Linked DNA regions of Homo sapiens: all the other regions are linked to region 2. The links come from fine-mapping of genetic effects on plasma protein levels. A gene starts in region 2. Each other region holds a variant in brackets. All regions are shown on one strand. Distances are between the middles of the regions.

Evidence for each region. A credible set is the group of variants that fine-mapping cannot tell apart. PIP is the chance, under the fine-mapping model, that this variant and not a neighbour inherited with it causes the effect. The UK Biobank Pharma Proteomics Project read protein levels with antibody pairs (Olink). The fine-mapping took linkage between variants from a reference panel, not from the people measured, so its PIPs are less certain.
Region 1: its variant is the best candidate, but not a certain one, in a credible set for the plasma level of the EHBP1 protein (UK Biobank, PIP 0.61).
Region 3: its variant is the best candidate, but not a certain one, in a credible set for the plasma level of the EHBP1 protein (UK Biobank, PIP 0.78).

The regions. Positions count from the first base shown.
Region 1 is chr2:62,642,519-62,646,760 of GRCh38, forward strand. No RefSeq gene overlaps it. Among named protein-coding and RNA genes, the nearest start is that of EHBP1, 61 kb to the right of the region's middle. The variant C/A (reference allele first, on the strand shown) is at 1,666.
Region 2 is chr2:62,703,559-62,707,800 of GRCh38, forward strand. It overlaps EHBP1 (EH domain binding protein 1), which reads left to right and starts at 2,155. Exons shown (of 23, transcript NM_001142616.3): 1 at 2,155-2,494; 2 at 3,339-3,737. The coding sequence starts at 3,634. RefSeq lists an enhancer at 1,862-2,001 and silencers at 2,032-2,291, 2,412-2,491.
Region 3 is chr2:62,632,399-62,636,640 of GRCh38, forward strand. No RefSeq gene overlaps it. Among named protein-coding and RNA genes, the nearest start is that of EHBP1, 71 kb to the right of the region's middle. The variant GAAAC/G (reference allele first, on the strand shown) is at 2,339.

The DNA.
Region 1 (4,242 bases), 61 kb before region 2:
GCATGGTCATTATCATGATTACTACTATCTTGGAGATAACCACCAGTGGTCTAGCAGTCATGTCCTGTCAAATACACCTTGTTCGGGAAGCTAAGGGACAGTAAATAAAAAAGGATAAGGGAAAGGTCAGTAAGGTAGAGTACAGGGGCTCAAAGCCTCAAGCAGAGTCCAGGGGATGGGAAGCAGGGCCAGAGAATAGCTAGTCAAGTGAACAAATAGGAAGTGAGCCTAGGGAACATCAAAGATAAGAATGAGGACAGGGTCTGTTCCCTGCACAGTGATGTGTAACTGGATCAACTTAGATGAAAGAACTAGGGACAAAGCAGACATATCCAACCAACAAAAGCAAGTTCAAGGCTTCAAAAAAAAAAACTGTTTCTTCCTATCTACAGAACTTCTATGCTTTAGTTGAGAATAAAATCTGTTCCAGAACATATGACTCTCTCAGTTCAGGTACCATTCAGGCTACTAAGAAAGGTCCCTTTTGCTCTTTCTATTCTTTCTGTACTTTCTGCCATCCTTGTACTTCCTCGTGTCCCTGGAATGGTCCAAACTTGTTCCCATCAACTTCATCTTTCACACCATGTCATTTATTTATATGCTCAGCCTTATTTGAATGCTTCTTCCTGTCTCCTCCACATTCAGGCTGCCAAAACGAATTCCCTACTGCAGAGAACTATATTCTCGGGCACTGGTGTGTTGCACTGTAAGGCTCCCAGCTTTTGGTTGCCTTAGCCTGTGTTTGCAATATCAGCGCCTAGAGTGGCTATAAAGCCCTATTCACAGAAGATGCCTTGTCAGACTCCTACACTGACTTCTTTTATTCCAATCCTTTGGGCTATGTTAAAGAGCTTTATCTGTTTCTCCCACTTTCCCTAGCGTTAGCCATGTGCCCATTTCTCCTGGCTATTTGTTTAAGTAGAGTGTACCTGTTTGGTCTGTCTGAACAGGAGTTACGAAGTCCTGTTGATGGTGGCTTACAGGGTTACTTGGGACCTGTACAGACTTACTATTTCTCAAATTATTTATACAGTTTATTTGTCTACATTCTCTTACCTCTGTATCTCTAAAATCCATCTTAATGCAATAAAGCCCTTAGTCCCAAACCAATTTTTTCTAATATATGTTTCCCCTAAAGCCCCAATACCTTCATTCCTTTATTCTGATTTATTGCTGCTGCCTAACCACAGCTACAAGGCAAATATTATAATAATAATAATAATAATTTAAAACCCTAGTAACAAACACATCGGGATTAACATACTAGGTCTACATTAAACCACCCAACAATGAACTAACTCATCTTTAATTTATTAGCTTGATTCTGATATAAATTCTGAATGAAAAGTAAAAGGTTGTGTAGATTAATAATATTAAAGTTGCAAAACAAACCCCTGAAAAATAGGAAACATTAAACAAAGAGAGCTGTGCCATCTTTAATTCATTGCCCTGTTTCTAGGTAATTCCTTGCATGCAGGAGGCAGACTCATGATTGTGTTTTAAAAAAGAACATGCAGTACCAAAACCATCCGTGAAAGGTATAAATCATCACAGCATACTACTCCAAACTTTAGGGCCTAACTCACATGTATTCTGTGTGATATTGGCCTAAAAAACATATCATTGTGACCTTTAATTAAGTATCACCTGCTTCTATAAGTTCTA[C/A]ACAGATAGGTCTATCATTCTAGAGACAAAAATTATAAGTCCTGAGACTTTGCTGAAGTTGCTTATCAGCTTAAGGAGATTTTGGGCTCAGACGATGGGGTTTTCTAGATATACAATCATGTCATCTGCAAACAGGGACAATTTGACTTCCTCTTTTCCTAATTGAATGCCCTTTATTTCCTTCTCCTGCCTGATTGCCCTGGCCAGAAATTCCAACACTATGTTGAATAGGAGTGGTGAGACAGGGCATCCCTGTCTTGTGCCAGTTTTCAAAGGGAATGCATCCAGTTTTTGTCAATTCAGTATGATATTGGTTGTGGGTTTGTCATAGATAGCTCTTATTATTTTGAGATACTTCCCATCAATACCTAATTTATTGAGAGTTTTTAGCATGAAGGGTTGTTGAATTTTGTCAAAGGCCTTTTCTGCATCTATTGAGATAATCATGTGGTTTTTGTCTTTTGCTCTGTTTATATGCTGGATTATGTTTATTGATTTTCCTATGTTGAACCAGCCTTGCATCCCAGGGATGAAGCCCACTTGATCATGGTGGATAAGCTTTTTGATGTGTTGCTGGATTCAGTTTGCCAGTATTTTACTGAGGATTTTTGCATCAATGTTCATCAAGGATATTGGTCTAAAATTCTCTTTTTTTTGTTGTGTCTCTGCCAGGCTTTGGTATCAGGATGATGCTGGCCTCATAAAATGAGTTAGGGAGGATTCCCTCTTTTTCTGTTGATTGGAATAGTTTCAGAAGGAATGGTACCAGCTCCTCCTTGTACCTCTGGTAGAATTCGGCTGTGAATCCATCTGGTCCTGGACTTCTTTTGGTTGGTAAGCTATTAATTATTGCCTCAATTTCAGAGCCTGTTATTGGTCTATTCAGAGATTCAACTTCTTCCTGGTTTAGTCTCGGAAGGGTGTATGTGTCCAGGAATTTATGCATTTCTTCTAGATTTTCTAGTTTATTTGCGTAGACGTGTTTATAGTATTCTCTGATGGTAGTTTGTATCTGTGGGAATCGGTGGTGATATCCCCTTTATCATTTGTTATTGCATCTATTTGATTCTTCTGTCTTTTCTTCTTTATTAGTCTTGCTAGCAGTCTATCAATTTTGTTGATCTTTTCAAAAAACCAGCTCCTGGATTCATTAATTTTTTGGAGGGTTTTCTCTGTCTCTATTTCCTTCAGTTATTCTCTGATCTTAGTTATTTCTTGCCTTCTGCTAGCTTTTGAATGTGTTTGCTCTTGCTTCTCTAGTTCTTTTAATTGTGATGTTAGGGTGTCAATTTTCGATCTTTCCTGCTTTCTCTTGTGGGCATTCAGTGCTATAAATTTCCCTCTACACACTGCTTTGAATGTGTCCCAGAGATTCTGGTATGTTGTGTGTTTGGTCTCATTGGTTTCAAAGAACACCTTTATTTCTGCCTTCATTTCGTTACGTACCCAGTAGTCATTCAGGAGCAGGTTGTTCAGTTTCCAGGTAGTTGAGCGGTTTTGAGTGAGTTTCTTTTTCTTTTTTCTTTTTTTTTAATTATTATTATTATACTTTAAGTTTTAGGGTACATGTGCACAATGTGCAGGTTAGCTACATATGTATACATGTGCCGTGCTGGTGCGCTGCACCCACTAACTCGTCATCTAGCATTAGGTATATCTCCCAATGCTATCCCTCCCCCATTCCCCCATCCCACAACAGTCCCCAGAGTATGATGTTCCCCTCCCTGTGTCCATGTGTTCTCATTGTTCAGTTCCCACCTATGAGTGAGAATATGCGGTGTTTGGTTTTTTGTTTTTATGATAGTGTACTGAGAATGATGATTTCCAATTTCATCCATGTCCCTACAAAGGACGTAAACTCATCATTTTTTATGGCTGCATAGTATTCCATGGTGTATATGTGCCACATTTTCTTAATCCAGTCTATCATTGTTGGACATTTGGCTTGGTTCCAAGTCTTTGCTATTGTGAATAATGCCACAATAAACATACGTGTGCATGTGTCTTTATAGCAGCATGATTTATAATCCTTTGGGTATATACCCAGTAATGGGATGGCTGGGTCAAATGGTATTTCTAGTTCTAGATCCCTGAGGAATGGCCACACTGACTTCCACAATGGTTGAACTAGTTTACAGTCCCACCAATGGTGTAAAAGTGTTCCTATTTCTCTACATCCTCTCCAGCACCTGTTGTTTCCTGACTTTTTAATGATCGCCATTCTAACTGGTGTGAGATGGTAGCTCATTGTGGTTTTGATTTGCATTTCTCTGATGGCCAGTGATGGTGAGCATTTTTTCATGTGTTTTTTGGCTGCATAAATGTCTTCTTTTGAGAAGTGTCTGTTCGTGTCCTTCGCCCACTTTTTCATGGGATTGTTTGTTTTTTTCTTGTAAATTTGTTTGAGTTGATTGTAGATTCTGGATATTAGCCCTTTGTCAGATGAGTAGGTTGCAAAAATTTTCTCCCATTCTGTAGGTTGCCTATTCACTCTCATGGTGGTTTCTTTTGCTGTGCAGAAGCTCTTTAATTTAATTAGACCCCATTTGTCAATTTTGGCTTTTGTTGCCATTGCTT
Region 2 (4,242 bases):
TTCTTAATTCCTTCACTCATTTAGTAAACGATTCTAACTTTGATCTCTTCTTAGCTACCTTGGTGTCTAGAAGGAAAAATAAGAGTTTACATCCAAGACAAATATTTCCCCTAAAAAGAAGAGCTGTCATAAGAAACTATCAGTCTCTTGAAATTTTCCACAACTTGAGGAAGATTCCCTAGGGATCCTACTCCTTTATTTTTTTTTAAGACACCATTTAAAACTTATTACTTTTAAGGGAATTTCTTTACAATAAAGTCAGTCTCTCTATTTTTTCTCTCTTCCCCCTCTCCCTTTGGAGTAAGGGAAGCATGTTAAAAGAAACCAGAATGACCACATAAGAAAGTTTGAGAACTTCCAGAGAACAGTAATAAATAGGGTGCAAAAACCTTCTGATCATCATGTGGATTGTTTCTGAAGGGTAACTTGGATGAAAATAATTTATGACCATTTCTACAAATAAGCCATTAAAAAACTCCACACACTTAAAGCCTACTAAAGATGCAGAATATATTATTATATGAGATCATAATGGCTGTAGGTTGTAGTGACTTCGTAAACCACTCAGGAAGGACATCAGAGAACTCTTAATAGAAAATAAGAATCAATATGATTATTACGATTATCTTAACATTTTAGAATTGACTAGCAAAATAAGCGATAACTATGCTGTTTTCTGTAAAATGCACACTGTGCTCTTGTATTATTAGATCATTTTCTTTATTGAAAGTGGAAATTGAATTAGATACTGGATTCAAGCCTTATATCTGTCTCCCCATCTCTCTTGATTCTTCAACATGTCTCTCCACTTTGTCTTGGCCCCCAATGTCTACAGATGGACTCAATTCTCACCCATCACTGCTCTCTCTTCCTGTCCCTGAAAGAATCCTCCCTAGACCCTAACACCTTTCAAGCTACTTTGTCCATGCACCCTGCTTTCCAACCTTCGTAAGATTGAATGATCCTTGTTTCCAGAACCCATCCCGCTTGCTTTCTTTTTATGTTAGCTTGCCTCTCTTTTTTTTCCAAACTGTCTGCCCATAGCTTGCTGATGCGCCTACTTCTCTGATTATTCCTTCTCGGTCTCTTTCCCATTTTACTCTGTTTATTCCTTAGATGCTAGGATTCCCCTGAAGTTTCATTCTTTGTCCTCTTTCTCCACACCAGGGGTCTGTGAACCACCTAAAACTGAAAACAATTTTTTGTGTTTTGAGACAGAACACTTTTTCCCCCTTGAGAAAGTATCTGTAGCTTTCATATTCTCAAAAGGGCCCTTGGCTCTTTTAACAAGATTGAGTGTCCCTGCCCTCACTCTGCCTCCTCCTTTTTGCCTTTGACCACCCTTTTTATATGCTAGCTGTTCCCAAATCCATCTACAGTTCTCACTAGGGGCAAAAGAGTCCGACAGCGAAGAGGAAACCAAGATTCAAAGAAATGTTGAAGACTCCGAACAATAAGAAATTGTACTGTACACATTTTGTGTCTAGCTCAGCTGATTCAATCCCACTGAAGACCAGTTGACTCTATGTTGGGCGGGGAGCGGCCGGGGTGTCGGGGGGTGCCTGACAGGGTCATTACTTCAGGTTGTCAGGTAAGATCCCAGGAGGAACTGGTGAAATAAAGGCTATGCGCAAAAACCCTAGTTGCCAGTGGCGGAGGAGAGGGCGCGCCCAGGTCCTGGCGGAGATGAGAACAGGAGAGAAACCCACAGGCAGCTGCACTGCCCACAGCTGCAGCGAAGCCAATCTCTAGGTCTGCAATCACCCTTAGGGGCCAGAAACCCAGCCCCGCACCAGCGGCGCCTTTGACGGACAGCCACCTTCTGCAATCACCTTGCAGTTCACTATAAACACTCCCTATTCCTCCCGCCTATCGCTTCCCTCTCCAAGCCAATCAGAAGAACGGGCGGGATCGTCCTTAGTCGGTTCCTTCTTTTTTTTTTTAAAAAAAAGGTAGCCTGTGCGTCGCATTCCGGCTTCGGGGAAAAACCACCTCCCGAGCAAGGGCAAGGCGGAGCCCCTGTGATGGGCAGGCAGTTCTACCAATGAGGTGCCCCAGCCGCTGTAAGACCCGGCCGCCGAGGTGGGCGGGGCACGCGCGGGGCCTGGCCAATGGCGGCGGGGCGGTGGAGGTTGAGCTGCCGTGGGTAGGGTTAGTGTGAGAGGTGCGGCGGGGGAGGTAATGATGATGGTGGCGGAGGAGAAAGGCGGGGGAGGGGGTGCTGGGCGCTGAGCGGTGGCTCTGGCAGGGCTTGGTAGGGTGGGGGACGGTCGCGGGGCGATCTGTCAGGGAGGGGGTGGGCGTGAGGGGCGCCGTCCGCCTGAGGGGCTGCAGATCCCGGCTACCGCGAGCGCCGTGGCTGGCTTGGCTGTTCCATGTGGCTCCGGCGGGGATGGAGGACTCGGTGGCGGCGGCGGCTGCTGCTGCGGCGGCGACGGAGGAGCGGCTATGAGAAGGGAACGGGGCCAGACTCAGCCCGACAGCGGGATTAGAGGTGTGAGGAGGGGGCGGGAGTGGACGAGCGGCGGGGCCGGGGCTCGGGGTCCGGGCTGGGGTCTTCTGGTATCGCCTGGGTGACAGGGACCGCGGACGAGCCACCGCCTGTCTCCGCTGGGGGGCAGGGGTCTGGGCTCCGTGCGTGAGGAGACTGGGCTCCGGCGGACTGTTTCCCTGAGGATGGGGGAGGGAGGCACCGCACCCTGCACAGTCCACTTGCCCCGCTGGTCATTGCTTCACCCCCAGGCAGGAGTTTCCATTTCCCTCCGGTTGGCAGCGAAGGAGCCCAAGTGGCCTGGAGCCGGGACATTGCCCTCTCTCTGCCTGGAGATTTCCCTCCACTCCTCGTTCCCCATCCATTTCCTCCCTCCGACTGAAAAATAGCATTCCTCCTGGCTCCCTAATTTGTTCCAAGCACATATTGTCGGACTTGAGGCTATTAATTATCGACTGAAAAACAAAGTTTATTAAAAAATACTCCACTTCTCCCTCTTTCTGGCGGTGGACATTAAACAGCATCCCTAGACTTTCCCGCTCTGCTCGCCCTTCAGTGATGCTAACAGGGGGAGGTAGGGCCCCGAGTTACCGTCTCTCTGGATTGTTGTTGGTGCTGACTACCTGATGTGTCGCTCCACGTCTTCGGTGTGAATTGTAATTTCTTCCTTGGTGTCTTGCATCCTTGATGTTACTGGCTTTTGAGGTCAGTGTTTTGTTTCATTGTTTAAAAGACATGCAGAGAACTGGGATGGTCTTTTGCAGCGTTATTTAACATGGGTGGTTAGTCATTTCTCATGATTCTCTCCTCATATTCTTTCTCTTTTTGTCTTTGTTTTGCTTTTCAGCCCTCCAGAATACCCATCATATAGCCCCTGAGGTGGCATGGTGATGTCTCCATGAGGGAACCCCTTCCCACTCATCCTGTCACGTATATCATAGTGTTCTTGACTGGGCCATTCATCTAAGATGGGATTTACCCTGTGAAACAGGGAGAAGACTTATGGACCCCAAGCATCATTTCGAGTTGTAGTTGAGTTTTTAAAAGACATACATGCAAAGTTCCTTTGCTTTGGACCCTCTGCATTATTAAAGCTGCTGTATTGCTAACCCAGAACTGCTCCAGTGTCTTGACTGATCATCATGGCTTCAGTTTGGAAGAGACTGCAGCGTGTGGGAAAACATGCATCCAAGTTCCAGTTTGTGGCCTCCTACCAGGAGCTCATGGTTGAGTGTACGAAGAAATGGTAAGATGTACCTGGAGGTAGATTTTGCTGTGCTGTGGCCTAAGCATACTGTGGCCTAAACTCTGGGTCTTCTGATAGTATATTTACCTTTCTATAGTGCACTAGTGTGTAGAAGCTGGGTGGGGCGCAGATAACTCTAACAAGTACTGTGCTGTGCACTGTTGCTGCTAGTACCATCCCTGTGGATTTTAATTACTGCGCTTCAGTATGGCTCAGAGGACTGTAACTGTGAGAGCACACTAAATACAATAGATTTGGTTTTGAGGTTATTCATCATTAGTGTTAAAATAACTTTGATTTTTGTAATTTTAAGGAGACAAAGAATGGCTACTGAAATATTGTGAGCATTAATCCGTATATTTTAATATAACAGGCATATGATTTAATAGAGTTTTAATATAGAAGTCTATATTCTTGTGGGGTGATGGTAATCTATTTTATTTTTGTTTTTTCATTTTTCCTTGCTTAGGATAAAGAATTTTTCATTATTTGATTAATGGAATGC
Region 3 (4,242 bases), 71 kb before region 2:
TTTCTGAGATATTAATAAAAGATACTCTAGCCACACCCTTAGCTTTTTCTCTAGCATACACTTCCCTGACAGTGAATCTCTTAATTTTCATGTCTTTTATAATCTGGATCATCTGAGAATTTCCCAAATCATCAAATCCTGGATTCTATTTGTTTAATTATTCTTTCCTCAATTTATTTCTTTCCTCTTCATTTCACTATAAGCACAGTAAGAAGAAACCAAGTTGTACTTCAAAATACTTTACTTGGAAATCACCTCAGCTAAATGTCCACTTTCATTGTTTCTAAGTTCTGATTGCCACATAACTGCAGGACACAATTTCTTAAAGTCAATCTTTCTACTAACAGTCTGTTCAATGCATTATAGACTTTTTAAAAATCATGATCTTCAGTATTCTTCCAGCTTCCACCAACCAATTCCAAAGTCACTTCCACATATTTAGTTATTTGTTACAGCAGCATCCAATTTCAGCTCCCCCAATCTATACTAGTTTTCTATTTTTGCCCTAATAAAGCACCACAAATTTATTGGCTTAGACAACAAGCATTTGTACTTTTATAGTTCTCTGAGTTAGAAGTTCAACATGGGGTGGCTGGCGGGATGGCCGAATAGGAACAGCTCCGGTCTGCAGCTCCAAGTGAGATTAACGCAGAAGGCAGGTGATATCTGCATTTCCAACGGAGGTACCCGGCTCATCTCACTGGGACTGGTTAGACAGTGGGTGCAGCCAATGGAGGGTGAGCCAAAGCAGGGTGGGGCGTCATCTCACCCAGGAAGCACAAGGGGTTAGGGAACTCCCTCCCCTAGGCAAGGGAAGTCATGAGGGACTGTGCCATAAGGAACGGTGCACTCCAGCCAGATACTACACTTTTCCCATGGTCTTTGCCACCCACAGACCAGGAGATTCCCTTGGGTGCCTACTCCACCAGGGCCCTGGGTTTCAAGCACAAAACTGGGCAGCCATTTGGGCAGACACTGAGCTAGCTGCAGGAGTTTTTTTTCATACCCCAGTGGCACCTGGGATGCCAGCAAGATAGAACCGTTCACTCCCCTGGAAGGGGGCTGAAGCCAGGGAGCCAAGTGGTCTAGCTTAGTGGATCCCCACCCCATGGAGCCCAGCAAGCTAAGATCCACTGGCTTGAAATTCTCGCTGTCAGCACTGCAGTCTGAAGTTGACCAGGGACACTCGCGCTTGATGTAGGGAGGGGTGTCTGCCATTACTGAGGCTTGAATAGGCAGTTTTCTTCTCACAGTGGAAACAAAGCTGCAGGGAAATCCCAGCTGGGCAGAGCCCACTGCCTCTTGGCAAAGCCACTGTAGCCAGACTGCCTCTCTAGATTCCTACTCGCTGGGCAGGGCATCTCCGAAAGAAAGGCAGCAGCCCCAGTCAGGGGCTTATAGATTAAACTCCCTGGGACAGAGCACATTGGGGAAGGGGTGGCTGTGGGCGCAGCTTCAGCAGAATTAAACATTCCTGCCTGCCAGCTCTGAAGAGAGTGGAGGATCTCCCAGCACAGCACTTGAGCTCTGCTAAAGGACAGACTGCCACCTCAAGTGGGTCCCTGAACCCTGTGCCTCCTCACTGGGGGGCACCTCCCAGAGGGGTTGAGAGACACCTCATACAGGAGAGCTCTGGCTAGCATCTGGTGGGTGTCCCTCTGGGACAAACCTTCCAGAGGAAGAACAGGAAGCAATCTTTGCTGTTCTGCAGCCTCCGCTAGTGATACCCAGGAAAACAGGGTCTAGAGTAGCCCTCCAGCAAGCTCCAGCAGACCTGCAGAGGAGGGGCCTGTTAGAAGGAAAACTAACAAACAGAAAGGAATAGCATCAACATCAACAAAAAGAACGTTCACTCAGAAACCCCATCCAAAGGTCACCAACATCAAAGACCAAAGGTAGATAAATCTACGAAGATGGGGAGAAACCAGTGCAAAAAGTCTGAAAATTCCAAAAACCAGAATACCTATTCTCCTCCAAAGGATCACAACTCCTCACCAGCAAAGGGACAAAACTGGACGGATAATGAGTTTGACTAATTGACAGAAGTAGGCTTCAGAAGGTGGGTAATAAATTCCTCCAAGCTGAAGAAGCATGTTCTAACCCAATGCAAGGAAACTACGAACCTGAAAAAAGGTTAGAGGAATTGCTAACTGAATAACCAGTTTAGAGAAGAACATAAATGACCTGATGGAGCTGAAAAACACAGCATGAGAACTTTGTGAAGCATACACAAGTACCAGTAGCCAAATCGATCAAGTGGAAGAAAGGATATTGGAGTTTGAAGATCAACTTAATGAAATAAAGTGTGAAACCAAGAGTAGAGAAAAAAGAATGAAAA[GAAAC/G]AAACAAAGCCTCCAAGAAATATGGGACTATGTGAAAAGACCAAACCTACGTCTGATTAGTATACTTGAAAGTGACGGGGAGAATAGAGTCAAGTTGGAAAATGCTCTTCAGGATATTATCCAGGAGAACTTCCCCAACGAAGCAAGGCAGACCAACATTCAAATTCAGGAAATACAGAGAACACCACAAAGATACTCCTCAAGAAGAGCAACCCTGAGACACATAATTGTCAGATTCATGAAGGTTGAAATAAAGGAAGAAAAGGTTTAGGGCAGCCAGAGAGAAAGGTCAGGTTACTCACAAAGGGAAGCACATCAGACTAACAGCAGATCTCTCAGCAGAAACCCTACAAGCCAGAAGGGAGTGGGGGCCAATATTCCACATTCTTAAAAAAATTTTCAACCCAGAATTTCATATCCAGCCAAACTAAGCTTCGTAAGCGAAGGAGAAATGAAATCCTTTACAGACAAGCAAATGCTAAGAGATTTTGTCACCACCAGGCCTGCCTTACAAGAGCTCCTGAAGGAAGCACTAAATATGGAAAAGAGAAACCGGTCCCAGCCACTGTAAAAACATGCCAAATTGTAAAGATCATCAACACTATGAAGTAACTGCATCAACTAGTGGGCAAAATAACCAGCTAGCATCGTAACGACAGAGTCAAATTCACACATAAAAATATTAACCTTAAATGTAAATGGGCTAAATGCTGCAATTAAAAGACACAGACTGGCAAATTGGATAAAGAGTCAAGACCCATTACCATGCTGTATTCAGTAGACCCATCTCACATGCAAAGACACACATAGGCTCAAAATAAAGGGACGGAGGAATATTTACCAAGCAAATCGAAAGAAAAAAAAAAGCAGGGATTGCAATCCTAATCTCTGATAGAACAGACTTTAAACCAACAAAGATCAAAAGAGACAAAGAAGGGCATTACATAATGGTAAAGGGATCAATGCAACAAGAAGAGCTAACTATCCTAAATATATATTCATCCAATACGGTGGCATCCAGATTCATAAAGCAAGTTCTTAGAGACCTACAAAGAGTCTTAGACTCTCGCACAATAATGATGGGAGACTTTAACACCTCACTGTCAATATTAGATCAATGAGACAGAAAATTAACAAGGATATTCAGGACTTGAACTCAGCTCTGGACCAAGCAGACCTAATCGACATCTATAGAACTCTCCATCCCAAATCAACAGAATATACATTCTTATCAGCACCACATAACACTTACTCTAAAATTGACCACACAACTGGAAGTAATACACTCCTCAGCAAATGCAAAAGAATGGAAATCATAACAAACAGTCTCTCGGACCACACTGCAATCAAATTAGAATTCAGGATTAAGAAGGTCACTCAAAACTGCACAACTACATGGAAACTGAACAACCTGCTCTTGAATGACTACCGGGTAAATAACAAAATTAAGGCATAAATAAATAAGTTATTTGAACCAATAGGAACAAAGACACAATGTACCAGAATCTCTGGGACACAGCCAAAGCAGTGTTTAGAGAGAAATTTGTAGCACTAAATGCCCACCAGAGAAAGCGGGAAAGATCTAAAATCAACACCCTAACATCACAATTAAAAGAACTAGAGAACCAAGAGCAAACAAATTCGAAAGATAGCAGAAGACAAGAAATAACAAAGATCAGAGCAGAACTGAAGGAGATAGAGACATGAACAACCCTTCAAAAAATCAATGAATCCAGGAGCTGGTTTTTTGAAGAGATCAACAAAATAGATGGACCACTAGCCAGACAAATAAAGAAGAAAAGAGAGAAGAATCAAATAGATACAATAAAAAATGAGAAAGGGGATATCACCACTGATCCCACAGAAATACAAACTACCATCAGAGAATGCTATGAATACC